Linked DNA regions of Homo sapiens: region 1 is linked to region 2. A link means that fine-mapping ties the variant in region 2 to the expression of a gene that starts in the linked region. Tissue or cell type: whole blood. Region 2 holds a variant in brackets; the other region holds the start of a gene. All regions are shown on one strand. Distances are between the middles of the regions.

What was found. PIP is the estimated chance that this variant, and not a neighbour inherited with it, causes the effect.
Region 1: RBPMS2 starts here. The variant in region 2 is fine-mapped to the expression of RBPMS2 in whole blood (INTERVAL, PIP above 0.99).

Annotation. Positions count from the first base shown.
Region 1 is chr15:64,771,102-64,779,183 of GRCh38, forward strand. It overlaps RBPMS2 (RNA binding protein, mRNA processing factor 2), which reads right to left and starts at 4,488. Exons shown (of 8, transcript NM_194272.3): 1 at 4,132-4,488. The coding sequence starts at 4,218. RefSeq lists enhancers at 39-540, 4,349-5,195, 5,196-6,041 and a silencer at 4,664-4,913.
Region 2 is chr15:64,797,529-64,805,629 of GRCh38, forward strand. No RefSeq gene overlaps it. Among named protein-coding and RNA genes, the nearest start is that of PIF1, 24 kb to the right of the region's middle. RefSeq lists an enhancer at 1,734-2,636. The variant A/G (reference allele first, on the strand shown) is at 3,404.

The DNA.
Region 1 (8,082 bases), 26 kb before region 2:
CCTCCCTCAACCCAATAGTATAAATACCACTCTCCCCCTTCCAGGGGTGCCCCCCAGTTAAAAATTACTTTAACAATCTCCAAACTCTTCAAGTTGTATACACTAAATATACACCTTTATATATGCCAATCATACCTCAAAAAAGTGGTTTTTAAAAATTACTATAACTTAGTATCACCTCGTACCGTTTAGTTGTCCCTCGATATCTGAGGCGGATTGGTTCCAGGGTTCCCCCTTGGATATCAACATCTCCAGATGTTCAAGTCTCTTATATAAAATTTGTATATAACCTATGCACAGGCCGGGCACGGTGGCTCACGTCTGTAATCTCAGCACTTTGGGAGGCCGAGCTGGATGGACCACTTGAGGTCAGGAGTTCAAGACCAGCCTGGCCAACATGGTGAAACCCCGTCTCTACTAAAAATACAAAAATTAGCCAGGCATGGTGGCGTGCACCTGCAATCCTGGAGGCTGAGGCAGGAGAATCACTTGAACCTGGGAGGAGGTTGCAGTGAGCCGAGATTGCGCCACTGCACCCCAATCTGGGCAACAGAGACTGTCTCAAAAACAAAACAAGGCTGGGCGCCGTGGCTCAGGCCTGTAATCCCAGCACTTTGGGAGACTGAGGTGGGCAGGTCACCTGAGGACAGGAGTTCAAGACCAGCCTGGCCAACATGGTGAAATCCTGTCTCTACTAAAAAACAAAAATTAGCCAGGTATGGTGGCGGGCACCTGTAATCCCAGCTACTCAGGAGGCTGAGGCAGGAGAATTGCTTGAACCTGGGAGGCAGAGGTTGCAGTGAGCTGAGATTGTGCCACTGCACTCCAGCCTGGGTGACAAGAGTGAAACTCCCCTTCAAACAAATAAAAAAATAACCTATGCACATTTTCTGGATACTTTAACTCATCTCTAGATTATTCACAATACCTAATACAATGTGAATGCTATGTAAATAGTTGTTATATTTATTTGTATTATTTTTTATTATTGTATTTTTTATCTACAACTGGATTCATGGATAGGGAACCCATAGAAATGGAAGGCCAACAGCAACTGTATTATGAAAGCAAGGTCTCCACTTTCAAAATAGAAATCACATTTACCCCTCTTCAGAGACATGGTAATTACCCAGTTATCCCTTGAGAATCACTAAGACAGGACATTTAGGTCTGAAGTTTGGCAGCACTGATACAGCCTGCCCCGGACAGGTTCATGTACTGTATTACCTCATGTCGTCCCCAGCTCCAGTCAAGACTTACCTGCAGGACAGCACAACCTCTAGATTGGGAGGGACATTCAGCTCCTCCCCTTAATTCCTTACTGCCCTCCTTAGCTTTCAAAGGGTATCAAAGCTTCGAACACATCTTCCCAAGTGGCAGAAAAATGCCAATTTTCCCGTAATACCACAGTCATTACTGCCCTAATTCCAAACTCTCATTATGGCTGCACTGCCTGATATTGCTGCAATATAGCAAACTCCAGGTAGTTACCCAAACAAGCCATGTGGTTACACAAACCTACCTCCTCACTTATACATGCGACTCCCTCCTCTTGGAATGCCTTTTCCACCCCCACAGGTCTAACCTTGCTCCTCCTACTCACCCACATCTCAGGGAAGGCTGACCTCTAATCTCTCAGGAGCACCATGGTACCATGTGCTCATATGCCTTTATTTTATCTATCATTGCATTTCACCTACCACCACTTCCTGGCAAGTCCTTCCGACCTCCTAGGCTGAGAATTTTCACTTGTATCCTTAACCCCTGGGTCCAGAAAGAAAACTTAATGCGTATGACATGGATAAAGCCTATAGGTAAGGTAGTCAAGCAGGCAGAGTCAAGGCTATCCAAAGCAGTTCAGGACAAGCAACCTCACTGATAACTCCCAGAACCATGAAAAATACACTCCCTTCGCCAGTGACCCAGCGCCTTTAGGAATTGAGGTCTTACGGCGTGCAGCAGCATTCCTTGGTTTCCTGGGCTTGCTCTCGCTAGTCTCCAAGAGTTGACTGGGAAGAAGCCACCTGTGTCAGCCATGGGAGTAAACCACTGCTAACGCTGATTCTCCAGATGGTTGCTCTTAGGGGCTGCAGAACTGACTGCTTAGGGAGCATCTAAACTACAGGGAGGATTCCAGTTCCAGCCTACACCACCAATCCAAGATGGAGCCACCAGCACAGGGGCTCATGGCCCACTATTCAGAAGACTAGGCCAGGGCTTGGGGAATAACCCTTTCCCTTACCAGACCAGACAGACACTGGGCTCCAGGAGACCCTCAGAACCCTTTGTTCTGGACCTCTGCTAAACGCGAGCCCACCATGCCCTTTTCCAAGTGCGCGGATTTGGAACCACCATAGGGCCGCAGGCCATCTCAACTCCCAAGGAGGAATAGTAGGGATTCCACTTTTTGAGAATCCTGCCCTCTTTCCCAGAAAAGGTACTTAGAAAGGAGTGGCTAAAACCTCAAATGCTTTTTTCAAGACTTAGAATGGCCACATGGGTCACCCTTCTCACCCAACAGCAGTGGGTCTGAGGGTTTGCCCAGTACCAGCCTCTTGGGCAGTGTGAAGTCCCCACTGAAGTAGACCCTTTAGCAGAAGTGGGGTTCTGGGTCCCCATTCAGCTTTATAGGAGACATGCTCTCCCCCAGTTTCAGCCCACAGCAGGGGGCCAAGCAGAGACTCCAAGTACGCTAGCAACCCTGTCACCCTCCCCAACTGTCAAGGGAGATTCTAACAGCCAGGTAGAGTCAGGATGGGGGCAAGATCCCCAAAGCCAAGGGCCTTTTGGCATCAAGGTACAAGGAGGGCAAGGCCTCTGGAGCCCAAACAAATCCACCACACTTAAGTCATTAGTGGACAGATGTCACAGTTGTATATTCTTCCCTTCCCCTTCCGCCAAAAAGTGGAGATCCAAACCTAGATTGTCATCGACTGGGGCTGGCTGAAGGTCTCTGAATAGCCGAGTGGGAGCTGGCGGCGCTGAGCCCAGCCCAGCCGAGGGCCACCGGCGCCATTCTGCACCAACCCCCAGCACAAGGGGAGGAGGCAACACCAGTCCACACCAGGGGCTCTGCGGTTTCTCCCCCAGGCCAAGGGGAAGGGCGCCCAAGGTGGATAACCAGCCCTTGGTTTCCTGGGCGAGAACATGCCAGGGCAGGGGCAGGAAGGCTCTCTCACCCCTAGAATGACGCAGCAGAGGCCAGAGGCCCTGCGAAGCCTGTCCCCTTCTACTCCAGTTCTTGTCTCCGCCAGCCTAGCTCCTCGTCCCTATTCACTGATATCTTTGAGGCTTTTATCCAGCACCCCACCCCGCACACACATCCTCCCTACCATCCATTAACCACCCAGCTGCTGGTGGTTCCACGGAGCCGCCTTACACTCCCTCCCTTTCGCACATGGCCGGTGGACGAGATGATTTCGCCCCTCCTGGCAGGATCCCACCCAGGCCAGCTTTGGGGTCCTGGCTTGGTTGCCAGGACAAACCCAGAGAGAGGAGAAGGACGAACTGAGTGTCTTTAGTCATCTTCCAAACTAATTAAATTGTGGGCTCACCTCTGCCAAAGCCCAGGTTCTGGGGCTGTGAAGAAAGCCCGCCCACCCCCATGACAACAGCTCGCAGGAACCGAGGAGCCGGCCGGCCCAGGCCTCCAAGGTCACGGGGAGGGGGTCAGGGCGGAAAAGGCAGTGGAGTGAGGGTGCCGCCCTCGGGCCGTGCTAATCCCGCTCCGCTCCGTGCCGCCGAGGCGGGGTCCTGGCCACGCAGGAGGTGCGCCTCGGAGGAGGGCGGCGAGCGGCTACGGGGTGGGGAGCAAGGGGCGCGCGGGCGGCAGGCATGGAACGGACGCGGCGCATCTCGCCCACCGCGGGACGCCCGGACGGCGGCCGGCGCGCGCGGCCCGCCTCGAGCCCGAGAGGGCGGGGAGACAATGCCTGTCCGGCGGGGCAGTCCAGGCCGCACGCTCCCGCCCGCGGACACGGGCCGCTCCTACCCGGGCGAGAGGGCAGCGGCGGGAAGGCGCCGGGAGCGATGGCCACCCCGGCCCCGCGAGGCGCGGCAGGCCCCGCTCGCCCTCTCCCGCGCCCGCCTGGCGTGCGCTTCACCCGGCAAGTCCCGGGGCCACAGACCCACCTCCTCCTCCAGGGCGCCGCCGGAGCCCGCGCCGGAGCCGGTGCCGGTGCTGCCGCCGTGCTCGCCGTCCGGCTTCAGGTTGCTCATGGTGCGGGGGAGGGGGCGGCGGGAAGGAACGCGAGGGCGAGCGCGGCGCCGGCCCCGCGGGAAGTGGGAAGGGGCGCGGGGAGCGGTGCGCTCGCGGGTGCGGAGCGGGTGGCGGGGGACCCACGGGGCAGTGAGAGGGGCAGCCTCCGCGTCGGGCCAGGGTCACATCAAGTTTGGCGGGTGCGGAAGGTGGGGAGGGGGTGCGGCGGGGGAGGCAGTGGGAGCCGGAGGGGCCGCCGCCTCCGCCTTTTCACTGCGACCGGCGAGTGCGCCGCGGCGGCGGCGGCGGCGGCAGCGGCGGCGGGGGGCGGGCGCCGGGGGAGGGGGCGGGCGCCGGCGGCGGGGGGCGGGGCCGGAACCGGCCTCAGCTGGGGCCCGGCCAGCCCCCTCCCCCGCCCGCCGCGCGGTCTCCGGGGGAACGCGCAGCCAATCCCCACCGCCCACCGTGGGCTCGCCCCGGCCCCGGCCGCGGGGCGCCGGCCTCCGGCCGGGCCTTTCCCCTCTCTCTCGCCTGGGTCAGCGCTCTCCCTCTCTCCTCTTCCCCCGCGCCCTTCTCCACGGCGAGTTTTTAAACTTTGATGAACTCGCCCGGCGAACTTTCTTAAAGGGGCCGCGCGCTGCGCGCCCCAGCCCGCGGGAGGTGGAGCCCCGTGCCCCGCACCCAGCGCCCCGGTCCCTGGGCGGCCCTGCCCGGGCGGCCTCGCGCTTAGGGCACCCGCAGCGAGGTTTCCGGGCCGTCGACTCCCCTTGTATCTTGATCTAGGGTTTTGGGGTTCCCGACGCACTCATTCTGCCCCTAAATCCAGTCGCGCAGACCTCAGCTCCGGGGGACCGAGTTCTGGGGGTGATGGCCGGGGGGAGGGGGTTGGGAGACACCTGAGCTTTGGCCCGGGCTGGGCGCTGTTTTGCTGAGTGACCTTGAGGAAATCACTTCCCCTCTCTGGCCTCAGGCTCCCAGCCCAGAGGGTGGGACTTAGGATCTCAAACTCCCTTCCCACTCCCAGTCACTATCTGAATAGGACTTAGGTGGGGATTCGAGTGTTGGGACCCCAATGGTCATTAGCGAGGGCTGCCTCGAATGACCAAGAAGGTTCTGTTGCCCACCTTGCCCTCAACACGCCTGGCTTTCGGGTCTTCTCGCTCCTCCCCCGACCTCAGTGCCCCTCACACCTTTCCCTGCCTCCTATTCTGAGCCCGAAGGCTGGGGACGGATGTAATAGCCTAGAGGCTGGGGGAGGTGGGGGAGGTCGTCGTGACTCCCCCCGCACCCCCGCGCAGGTCAGTAGGGCGCGGCCTCTGGGTCGGTTTTCTCTTCTATTTGAAAACCCAGCCGATGGGGGCCCGCCCTGCTGCCACAGTAGAAACCCGCACCCACCTCGGGGAGCGCTGGAAGCGCTGCAGCCTGAATCCGGCAGAGCCGCGGGAGAACTGGGTCCCTCCTCAGTGCCCCTTCTCCTGGACGGGGCGGAGGTTGCGGTGACCCGAGATCTTGCCATTGCACTCCAGCCAGGGCAACAAGAGCGAAACTCCGTCTCAAAAAAAGAAAAGAAAAAAGAAAAGCTGGATTTGCAGTCACGGACTGGTTAGGATCCCAGACCGTGGACAAGTGCCTGAGCCCCCAGAACCTCTGTGTGTCGACCTCCTGAATTAGGTAGGACTAGCACCACAGGATCACTGTGCTGTGGCTTAGTCTTCCCAGTAAATTATAATCTCCATCCTGACCTGCCATCTCACAGATAAATTGAGGCCTAGAGATGGGCAATGTCTTTCCAATGATATACTCATTCCTTTAGTAAATAATTATTGAGCACCTACTGTGGGCTGGGGACCATTTTCTGCTGGTGGCAAGGCCAAGAGCACCCTGGTTTCCCATCAGCCCTGTTGCCAACACTTGGCTCAGGCCCTATGAAGAGGGAGCTGCTGCCTGTAGGAGCCAGACCTTTACCCAGAGTTTTTAAGATGCCTCCAGCCTCAGGCATCTCCAGATAGAACCAACCTTGGGAACCCTCAGATACCCCTACCATCCTCCACAGGCCTCAGTCCAATCTGGCTGTGGGCTTGATCACCATCCCCTCCCCTAGAATAGGTCTTCCTATCAGGTTTGTCTCTAACTTTGGCCCAGGAATACTCTTCCTCTTCCTCTTCCTCCCCCGCTCCCCCTAATCAATCCAAAATCTTCCCTTCCCTCAAGATCCTGCCTTTCCCATGCTTTTTCCAGGAGAAGGAGCCTGGCCAGATTTCTGAACTCAGCCATTATATGGTTAATTTGAATTTTTCAAAGAAGAGCCTCTCATCTTGTAATTCTGGTCACCCTTCTTCTCCATTCTGGTCTCTGTTTTCTCCATAGATGGGAGAGCTAAGGCCCAAAAAGGTGACAAATGACACAGGGGCCACAACTGACCCCCATCACTACATTTCTTTTCTTTTTTCATTTTTTTTTTTTTTGTTTTGGGGGCTTTTTTGAGATGCAGTCTTGCTCTGTTGCCAGACTGGAGTGCAGTGATGCGATCTCGGCTCACTGCAACCTCCACCTCCCAGTTTCAAGCTATTCTGCCTCAGCCTCCTGAGTAGCTGGGACTACAGGAACGCACAACCACGCCCAGCTAACTTTTGTATTTTTAGTAGAGACGGTTTCCCCATGTTGGTGAGGATGATCTTGATCTCTTGACCTTGTAATCTGCCCCCATCAGCCTCCCAAAGTGCTGAGATTACAGGCGTGAGCCACCGCGCCCGGCCTTCTTTTCTTTTTTTAGAAAAAAGATCTTGCTCTGTCACCCAAGCTGGAGTGCAGTGGCACAATCACAGCTCACTCCAGCCTTGAACTCCTGGGCTCAAGTGATCCTTCTACCTCAGCCTCCCAGGTAGCTGTGATTACAGGTGCAACACCACGCCCAGCTAATTTTTTTTTTTTTTTTTTAAGAGACTGGCCTCTCATTATGTTGTCCCAAGCTGGTGTTGAACTCCTGGGCTCAAGTGATCCTCCCACCTTGGCCTCCCAAAGTGCTGGTATTATAGGCGTGAGCCACCACACCCAGCCTGTATTTCTTCTTAAGTTCTTCATAATTTGTAGTAAATGCTTACCCCTTATTAGACTGCCATTACTTATTTAACCTGTCTCTTGTTAGATATTTGTATTATTTCCAGTTTATTTTCTCTTTTGCCTTCATAGGCAAACTTTATATGAGGATTCTTTTTTTTTTCTTTTTCTTTGAGACGGAGTCTCACTATGTCACCAGGCTTGAGTGCAGTGCATCCTCCATCTCCCAGGTTCGAGCAGTTCTCGTGCCTCAGCCTCCTGAGTAGCTGGGATTACAGGTGCCTGCCACCACACTCGCTGTCACACCTGGCTAATTTTTGTATTTTTAGTAGGGACAAGGTTTCACCGTGTTGGCCAGGCTGGTCTTGAACTCCTGGCCTCAAGTAATCTGCTCACCTTGGCCTCTCAAAGTGCTGAGATTACAGGCATGAGCCCGCCCTCTTATATGAGCATTCTTAATGCCTCAGAAAGTTTCCTGTATGTGTGACCAGCCCTTAAGCACTTTGGAGGCAACAACTGTCTTTTCCCTCTCTGTGCACCCCTATGGCCCCTGAAATGGCAGAATCTCCAATCTCACATGGATTTGGAGATCATATAAACACAAAGCTCCCACCCAGCCCGCACCTTCATGAGTAGTCAGGCGTACCCATTGGTGCTGACCAGAAGCTGATGTGAAAGAGGCTAGAGAGAGGAGTTTGGGGTGTACAACTCTTTCAGACATCTGAAGGGTAGGAACTTATATCTCTGTCTCCCCAGCTATGACCTAGTAGTGTAGCCTCTAGTAATCTCTTCAGTGCCCCAGGCCTCCCCCACTGTCATGCTCCATA
Region 2 (8,101 bases):
CAGGTGTGAGCCACTCAACCTGGCCACTTTCCTGGTATTTTGCTGAGGATTTTTGCATCCATATTGATAAGAGATATTAGTCTATAGTTTTCTTTGAGATGGAGTCTAGCTCTGTTGCCCAGGCTGGAGTGCAATGGCACAATCTTAGTTCACTGTAACCTCCACCTCCCAGGTACAAGAGATTCTCCTGCCTCAGCCTCCCTAGTAGCTGAGATTACAGGTGGGTCACCATGTTCTGCTAATTTTTTTGTATTTTTAGTAGAGATGGGATTTCATAATGTTGGCCAAGCTGGTCTCGAACTCCTGACCTCAAGTCCCAAAGTGCTGGATTACAGGCATGGGCCACCATGCTTCACCTTGAGTAGATTTAAATTGATTGGTTTTTATTTTTCTTAGGGGTCATGTTTTCCTGTCTCTTTGTATACATGCTAATTTCTGTTGGATGTCAGACACTGCCAATTTTACTTTGTTAGGTACTGGATTTTTTTTCTTTTCTTTCTTTATTTAAAATTTTTTCTTTTTAATTTCTTGTAATACTCTCCTATCCAATGGAGATTTTGTTTGTTTGTTTGTTTGTTTTCAGACGAAGTCTCACTCTGTTGCCCAGGCTGGAGTGCAGTGGCGCAATCTCAGCTCACAGCAACCTCTGCCTCCCAAGTTCAAGCGATTCTTCTGCCTCAGCCTCCTGAGTAGCTGAGACTACAGGCACACACCACCACGCCCAGCTAATTTTTGTATTTTTAGTAGAGATGGGGTTTCACCATATTGGCCAGGCTGGTCTCGAACTCCTGACCCTGTGATCTGCTTGCCTTGGTCTCCCAAAGTGCTGGGATTACAGGCATGAGCAACCGCGCCCGGCTGATTCTTTTTTTATATATACTTTTTTTTTTTTTTTTACTTTTTTTTTTTTTTATTGATCATTCTTGGGTGTTTCTCACAGAGGGGGATTTGGCAGGGTCATAGGACAATAGTGGAGGGAAGGTCAGCAGATAAACAAGTGAACAAAGGTCTCTGGTTTTCCTAGGCAGAGGACCCTGAGGCCTTCCGCAGTGTTTGTGTCCCTGGGTACTTGAGATTAGGGAGTGGTGATGACTCTTAGAGCATGCTGCCCTCAAGCATCTGTTTAACAAAGCACATCTTGCACTGCCCTTAATCCATTTAACCCTGAGTGGACACAGCACATGTTTCAGAGAGCACAGGGTTGGGGGGTAAGGTCACAGATCAACAGGATCCCAAGGCAGAAGACTTTTTCTTAGTACAGAACAAAATGAAAAGTCTCCCATGTCTACTCCTTTCCACACAGACACGGCAACCATCCGATTTCTCAATCTTTTCCCCACCTTTCCCCGCTTTCTATTCCACAAAACCACCATTGTCATCATGGCCCGTTCTCAATGAGCTGTTGGGCACACCTCCCAGACGGGGTGGTGGCCGGGCAGAGGGGCTCCTCACTTCCCAGTAGGGGCGGCCGGGCAGAGGAGCCCCTCACCTCCCGGACGGCGTGGCTGGCCGGGTGGGGGGCTGACCTCCCCACCTCCCTCCCGGACGGGGCGGCTGGCCGGGCGGGGGGCTGATCCCCACCTCCCTCCTGGACGGGGTGGCTGGCCTGGCGGGGGCTGACCCCCACCTCCCTCCCGGACGGGGCGGCTGCCGGGCGGAGACGCTCCTCACTTCCCAGACGGGGTGGCTGCCGGGCGGAGGGGCTCCTCAATTCTCAGATGGGGCGGCTGCCGGGCGGAGGGGCTCCTCACTTCTCAGATGGGGCGGCTGCCAGGCGGAGGGTCTCCTCCCTTCTCAGACGGGGTGGCTGGGCAGAGACGCTCCTCACCTCCCAGACGGGGTCGCGGCCGGGCAGAGGCGCTCCTCACATCCCAGACGGGGCGGCGGGGCAAAGGCGCTCCCCACATCTCAGACGATGGGTGGCCGGGCAGAGACGCTCCTCACTTCCTAGATGGGATGGCGGCCGGGAAGAGGCGCTCCTCACTTCCTAGATGGGATGGCGGCCCAGCAGAGACGCTCCTCACTTTCCAGACTGGGCAGCCAGGCAGAGGGGCTCCTCACATCCCAGACGATGGGCGGCCAGGCAGAGACGCTCCTCACTTCCTAGACGGGGTGGCGGCCGGGCAGAGGCTGCACTCTGGGCACTTTGGGAGGCCAAGGCAGGCGGCTGGGAGGTGGAGGTTGTAGCAAGCCGAGATCACGCCACTGCACTTCAGCCTGGGCACCATTGAGCACTGAGTGAACCAGACACCGTCTGCAATCCCGGCACCTCCGGAGGCTGAGGCTGGCGGATCACTCGCGGTTAGGAGCTGGAGACCAGCCTGGCCAACACAGCGAAACCACGTCTCCACCAAAAAAATACGAAAACCAGTCAGGCGTGGCGGCGCGCGCCTGCAATCGCAGGCACTCGGCAGGCTGAGGCAGGAGAATCAGGCAGGGAGGTTGCAGTGAGCCGAGATGGCAGCAGTACAGTCCAGCTTCGGCTCGGCATCAGAGGGAGACCGTGGAAAGAGAGGGAGAGGGAGACCGTAGGGAGAGGGGGAGGGGGAGGGGGAGAGGGAGAGGTACATTTTTTTTTTTGAGACGGAGTTCCGCTCTTGTTGCCCTGGATGGAGTGCAATGGCGTGGGTCTCAGCTCACTGCAACTTCTGCCTCCCAGGTTCAAGCGATTCTCCTGCCTCAGCCTCCTAAGTACATGGGATTATAGGGGCCTGCCACCAAACCTGGCTAATTTTTGTATTTTTAGTAAAGACGGGGTTTCTCCATGTTGGCCAGGCTGGTCTCAAACTCCTAAACTAAGGTGATTTGCCTGCCTTGGCCTCCCAAAGTGCTGGGATCACAGGTGTGAGCCACCATGCCCGGCCAAATTATATTATTAATATAATGTTTTGGAGACAGGGCCTTGCTCTGTTACCAGGCTGGAGTGCAGTGGCATTATCATAGCTCACTGTAGCCTTGACCTCCTGGGCTCAAGTGATCCTCCTGCCTCAGCCTCCTAAATAGCTGGGACTTCAGGCACTTGCCACCTGTTTTACATTTGTTTACATTTACATTGTAAAACAGGCACATGCCTGCCTGTTTTACATTTGTTTTTGCAGAGACAGGGTCTCACTATGCTGCCCAGGCTGGTCTCAAATGATCCTTCCACCTTGGCCTCTGAAAGTGCTGGGATTACAAGTGTGAGTCACGGTGCCCGGCCCTGGAAATTTTCTTTAGGCAGCAAGGTGGGGCATTTGTAGGGTTTTCCTCATTTGTTTGCTGACTCTCTGGAATCACTATTTTTCATCTTATGGGTTTCAATGTCTTGAGAACCATGTTTCACATACTTTGGGGAGTATTTTAGTTGTTTTTAGGTGGGAATGTAAATCATCTTGTCTAGAAGCAGAAATCCTTACAATCATTT[A/G]TTAATTTCTTTAGCTGGCATTTATTGAGGAAGAGCTTAGTGTGTGCCCACCTTCCATTTGTCTTACAACTCTCCAAACACTCCAAATTTTCCTGCCTTGGGGTCTTTGCACAATTTTTCCTTTGTCTAGAATGGTCTTTCTAGCTCTACTTTCCTCCCTCAGCTCAAAGGGGCCTTCTCTGACTACTCTATGTAAAGTGAATCACTCTCTTTTTAATTTCCCATCACATTTCTGCTTTATTTTACAGCTTCTTCTACTAGAATAGAGCCAGACTTTTTTTTTTACTTTTTTTTTTTTTTTTGAGACGGAGTCTCGCTGTGTCGCCCAGGCTGGAGTGCAGTGGCGATCTCTGCTCACTGCAAACTCCGCCTACCGGGTTCATGCCATTCTCCTGCCTCAGCCTCTAGAGTAGCTGGGACTACAGGCGCCCGCCACCACGCCCGGCTAATTTTTTGTATTTTTAGTAGTGATGGGGTTTCACTGTGCTAGCAAGGATGGTCTCAATCTCCTGACCTCGTGATCCACCTGCCTCAGCTTCCCAAAGTACTGGGATTACAGGTGTGAGCCACCGTACCCGACCTTTTTTTACTTTTTTAACCTTAAAATTTTTTTTTTCACGCTTGTAATCCCAGCACTTTGGGAGGCTGAGGCAGGTGGATCATGAGGTCAAGAGATCGAGGCCATCCTGGCCAACATGGTGAAACCCTGTCTCTACTAAGCACCACTGCACTCCAGCCTGGCAACAGAGTGAGACTGTGTCTCAAAAAAAAAAAATTTAGAGATAGGATCTCACTATGTTGTCCAGGCTGGGCTCAAACTCTTGGGCTCAAGGGATCCTCCCATCTAGGCCTCCCAAAGTGCTGGGATTACAGGCGTGAGCCACCGCGCCTGGCCAGGCAGGAATTTTTGTGATTCTCTGGAACCAGCTCAGGGCCAGGCACACTGTTAAGTGTTCAATAAATATTTACTGAATGAATAAATGAGGTCTTTGCATACTTCATGGTGCCTGTCACATAATAGAGCTCAGTCAAATTGCGGGTGCCTGGCTGAGGAACACAGCCCCCTCCCCTGAGTTGTCCAGCGGGGATGGGATATTGGGCCTCTGGATTGTGCCCATGTTCAGCTCACCCTCAGCCTCACTCTCCTTAGTGATAACCAAAGGCCCCTGCTTGCCGGCCAGGGGAGGGCTGACAGGTGGGGCTGATGAGTTCCAGACCCAGTCCTCTGGGCCCCAGCACAACCAGATAGAACCGGATGCTGGCTGGAAGCCAGAGCCAAGCTTCCATGACGTCGTTGCCTTCAAGGGGCGTGCCCTCCCTGGCCCGTGTGGGCCTTCAGCTCTTGCCCACCGGGCTCAGAGCCTCCTGCCACTGGGCTCTGGGGAAAAACCTAGCCATCCTCCCTGGTTCTAGTTCTGCATCTACTTGTGCAGCCACTGACAACTATTAGAACACAGAACTAAATAGTGGTCGGCGCTATAAAGTGAAAAATACTTTGTAGATTTAAAACATTCTGTAAGTACTCACTAAACTAGAAAGGACTTGGGAAGCTTCTGTTCAAAACCACTACTTTTGACAGAGGAAGAAGCTGAGATTTAAATGAAATAATGGGCTGGGTGCAGTGGCTCATGCCTGTAATCCCAGCACTTTGGGAGGCCCAGGTGGGCAGATCACTTGAGAGCTCATGAGTTCAATCCTAGCCTGAGCAACATGGCAAAACCCCATCTCTACTAAAAATACAAAAATGAGCTGGGTGTGGTGTCGCATGCCTGTAGTCCCAGCTACTGGGGAGGCTGAGGCAGAAGAATCACTTGAACCTGGGAGGCAGAGGTTGCAGTGAGCCGAGATCATGCCACTGCACTTCAGCCTGGGCAAGAGAGCAAGACTCAGTTTCAAAATAAATAAATAAACAAAATAAAAATAAACAAATAAATGGAATAATGTATGTAGACTGCTTAGCACCACACTTGGGACGTTGTGATTTTACTCTAGCTATTCACCGCCTGCCCACCTCTGGCTAAGCAAACTCTGCGTTTGTGCCTCTCCACTTCCGCACACTCCCCTCCCACCTTGTCAATGAATTTTTTGTTCATTTATGTCACTTCATAATAATATATGCAAAGTGTTTAGCTCAAGGCCTGGCACTTCATAAATGAACAAAAAATGGGCCGGGTGTGGTGGCTCACATCTGTAATACCAGCATTTTGGGAGGCCGAGGTGGGTGGATCACCTGAGGTCAGGAGTTTGAGACCAGCCTGGCCGACATGGTGAAGCCCCTGACTCTACTAAAAATACAAAAAATTAGGCTGAGGCTGGGCACGGTGGCTCACGCCTGTAATCCCAGCACTTTGTGAGGCTGAGACAGGCGGATCACTTGAGGTCAGGAGTTTGAGACCAGCCTGATCAATATGATGAAACCCCGTCTCTACTAAAAATACAAAAATTAGCCGGGTGCGGTGGCAGGCATCTGTAATCCCAGCTACTCGGGAGGCTGAGGCAGAATAATCTCTTGAACCCGAGAGGCAGAGGTTGCAGTGAGCTGAGATTGCGCCATTCTACTCCAGCCTGGACGACAAGAGTGAAACTCCATCTCAAAAAAAAAAAAAAAAAAGAACAAAAAATAGTAGCTACAGTTCTTATTGAAACAGGGGATCCATCTGATAAATGCAAAGCAAAGCACTTTGCATATATCATTTAATTCTCATGTAGGATGAAATCGGTATCATTATTCCCATTTTACTGATGAGAAAACTGAGGCTTGAAGTAAGTGGCTGATGCAGTTCAGACCCCAGAGTAGGAAGATGCCAAACTGGTAGGTTCTGGCTTCTCTTCCCTTAGTGGTATCTTCTAACAAATTGTATTTCCTGCTAGCTATTCCTTCCTGTGCCTTTGGGGAAGGTCATCTGGCCCTGAACATTCATTTGGTCAATCACTGAAACAGGGTAAGATGGGGTCTAAAACCTCCAGCTGAGTGTATGTCCTGAAGCCCAACTCTGGGTTTGTTTGTTTTTTTTTTTTTCCTTGAGACAGAGTCTCGCTCTGTCGCCAGACTGGAGAGCAGTGGCACGATCTTGGCTCAGTGCAACCTCTGCCTCCTCGGTTCAAGTGGTTCTCCCGCCTCAGTCTCCTGGGTAGCTGGGACTACAGGTGCATGCCACCATGCCCAGCTAATTTTTTTGTATTTTTAGTAGAGATGGGATTTCACCATGTTGGCCAGGGATGGTCTTGATCTCTTGACCTCGTGATCCACCTGCCTCGGCCTCCCAAAGTGCTAGGATTACAAGCATGAGCCACCGCGACTGGCCAACTCTGAGCTTTTTTAGAGTTGGCAGCAAGGATGTTTCTGAAGGTCAAAGATAATCCCGTGTCAAAAACAGCTCTGGGGCAGGAGGAGTCATGTTCTGTGGGAATGAGCCCTCAGACCCAGCCACTTCCTCATCAAATGTCCTAGTAGCTGGGTCTCCTGGAGCCCCTAGCTCTGCATTCCCACAGGATGGTAGGAGCTGCTGATGGAGGCAGGCAAGTGGAAGTCCAGCCCTGTAGGAGCTCCAGTTCACAGAGGGGAACTGAACTGGCCTTTTTGGAGGAAAAGAAGACTTGAACCAAACTTGGAGGACCTGGTCAACTTGGATGAAGGAGAGTGAGGTGGGACGAGTAGGCTTTCTGTTCAGTGCAGAAAAGCTGGGACTGCTGGTTAAGCCATCAGCATTTCCCAAGCCCCACGGGTGTGTCCCACTGGGTGTTCACACCACAGACCCTTCAAGGGAGGATTGTCATTGCTGTGTGTCAGATGAGGAAACTCAGCCAGGGTCCAAGACTGCAGGAGGGATGTGCTGAATGCATGTGATGAGGAAATGGGGACCATTCTTTTATTTATTTATTTATTTATTTATTTATTTATTTATTTAGAGACAAGGCTTGCTCTGTAACCCAGGTTGGAGTGCAGTGGCACAATCTCGGCTCACTGAAGCCTTGACTCCCAGGCTCAAGCAATCCTCCCACCTCAGCCTCCCAAGTAGCTGGGACCACAGGTGTGTGCTACTGCACTGGGCTAATTTTTTTCTTTTCTTTCTTTCTTTCTTTTTTTTTTTTTTCGAGATGGAGTCTCGCTGTCACCCAGACTGGAGTGCAGTGGTGTAATCTTGGCTCACTGCAACCTCTACCTCCTGGGTTCAAGTGATTCTCCTGCCTCAGCCTCCCAAGTAGCTGGGACTACAGGCTCGCATCACCACGCCCAGCTAATTTTTGCATTTTCAGTAGAGACAGGGTTTCACCATGTTGGCCAGGCTGGTCTTGAACCCCTGACCTCAAGTGATCCATCTGCCTTGACCTCCCAAAGTGCTGGGATTACAGGTGTGAGCCACTGTGCCCAGTCCTTTCTTTTTTTTTCTTTTCTTTTTTTTTTTTTTTTTGAGACAGTCTTGCCCTGTCGCCCAGGCTGGAGTGCAGTGGCGCGATCTCGGCTCACTGCAACCTCCGCCTCTCAGGTTCAAGCTATTCTCTGCCTCAGCCTCCGGAGTAGCTGGGATTACAAGCACCCACCACCACGCCCGGTAATTTTTGTATTTTTTTAGTAGAGATGGGGTTTCACCATCTTGGCCAGGCTGGTCTTGAACTCCTGACCTTGTGATCCACCTGCCTTGGTCTCCCAAAGCGTTGGGATTACAGGCGTGAGCCACCATGCCTGGCCTTTTCTTT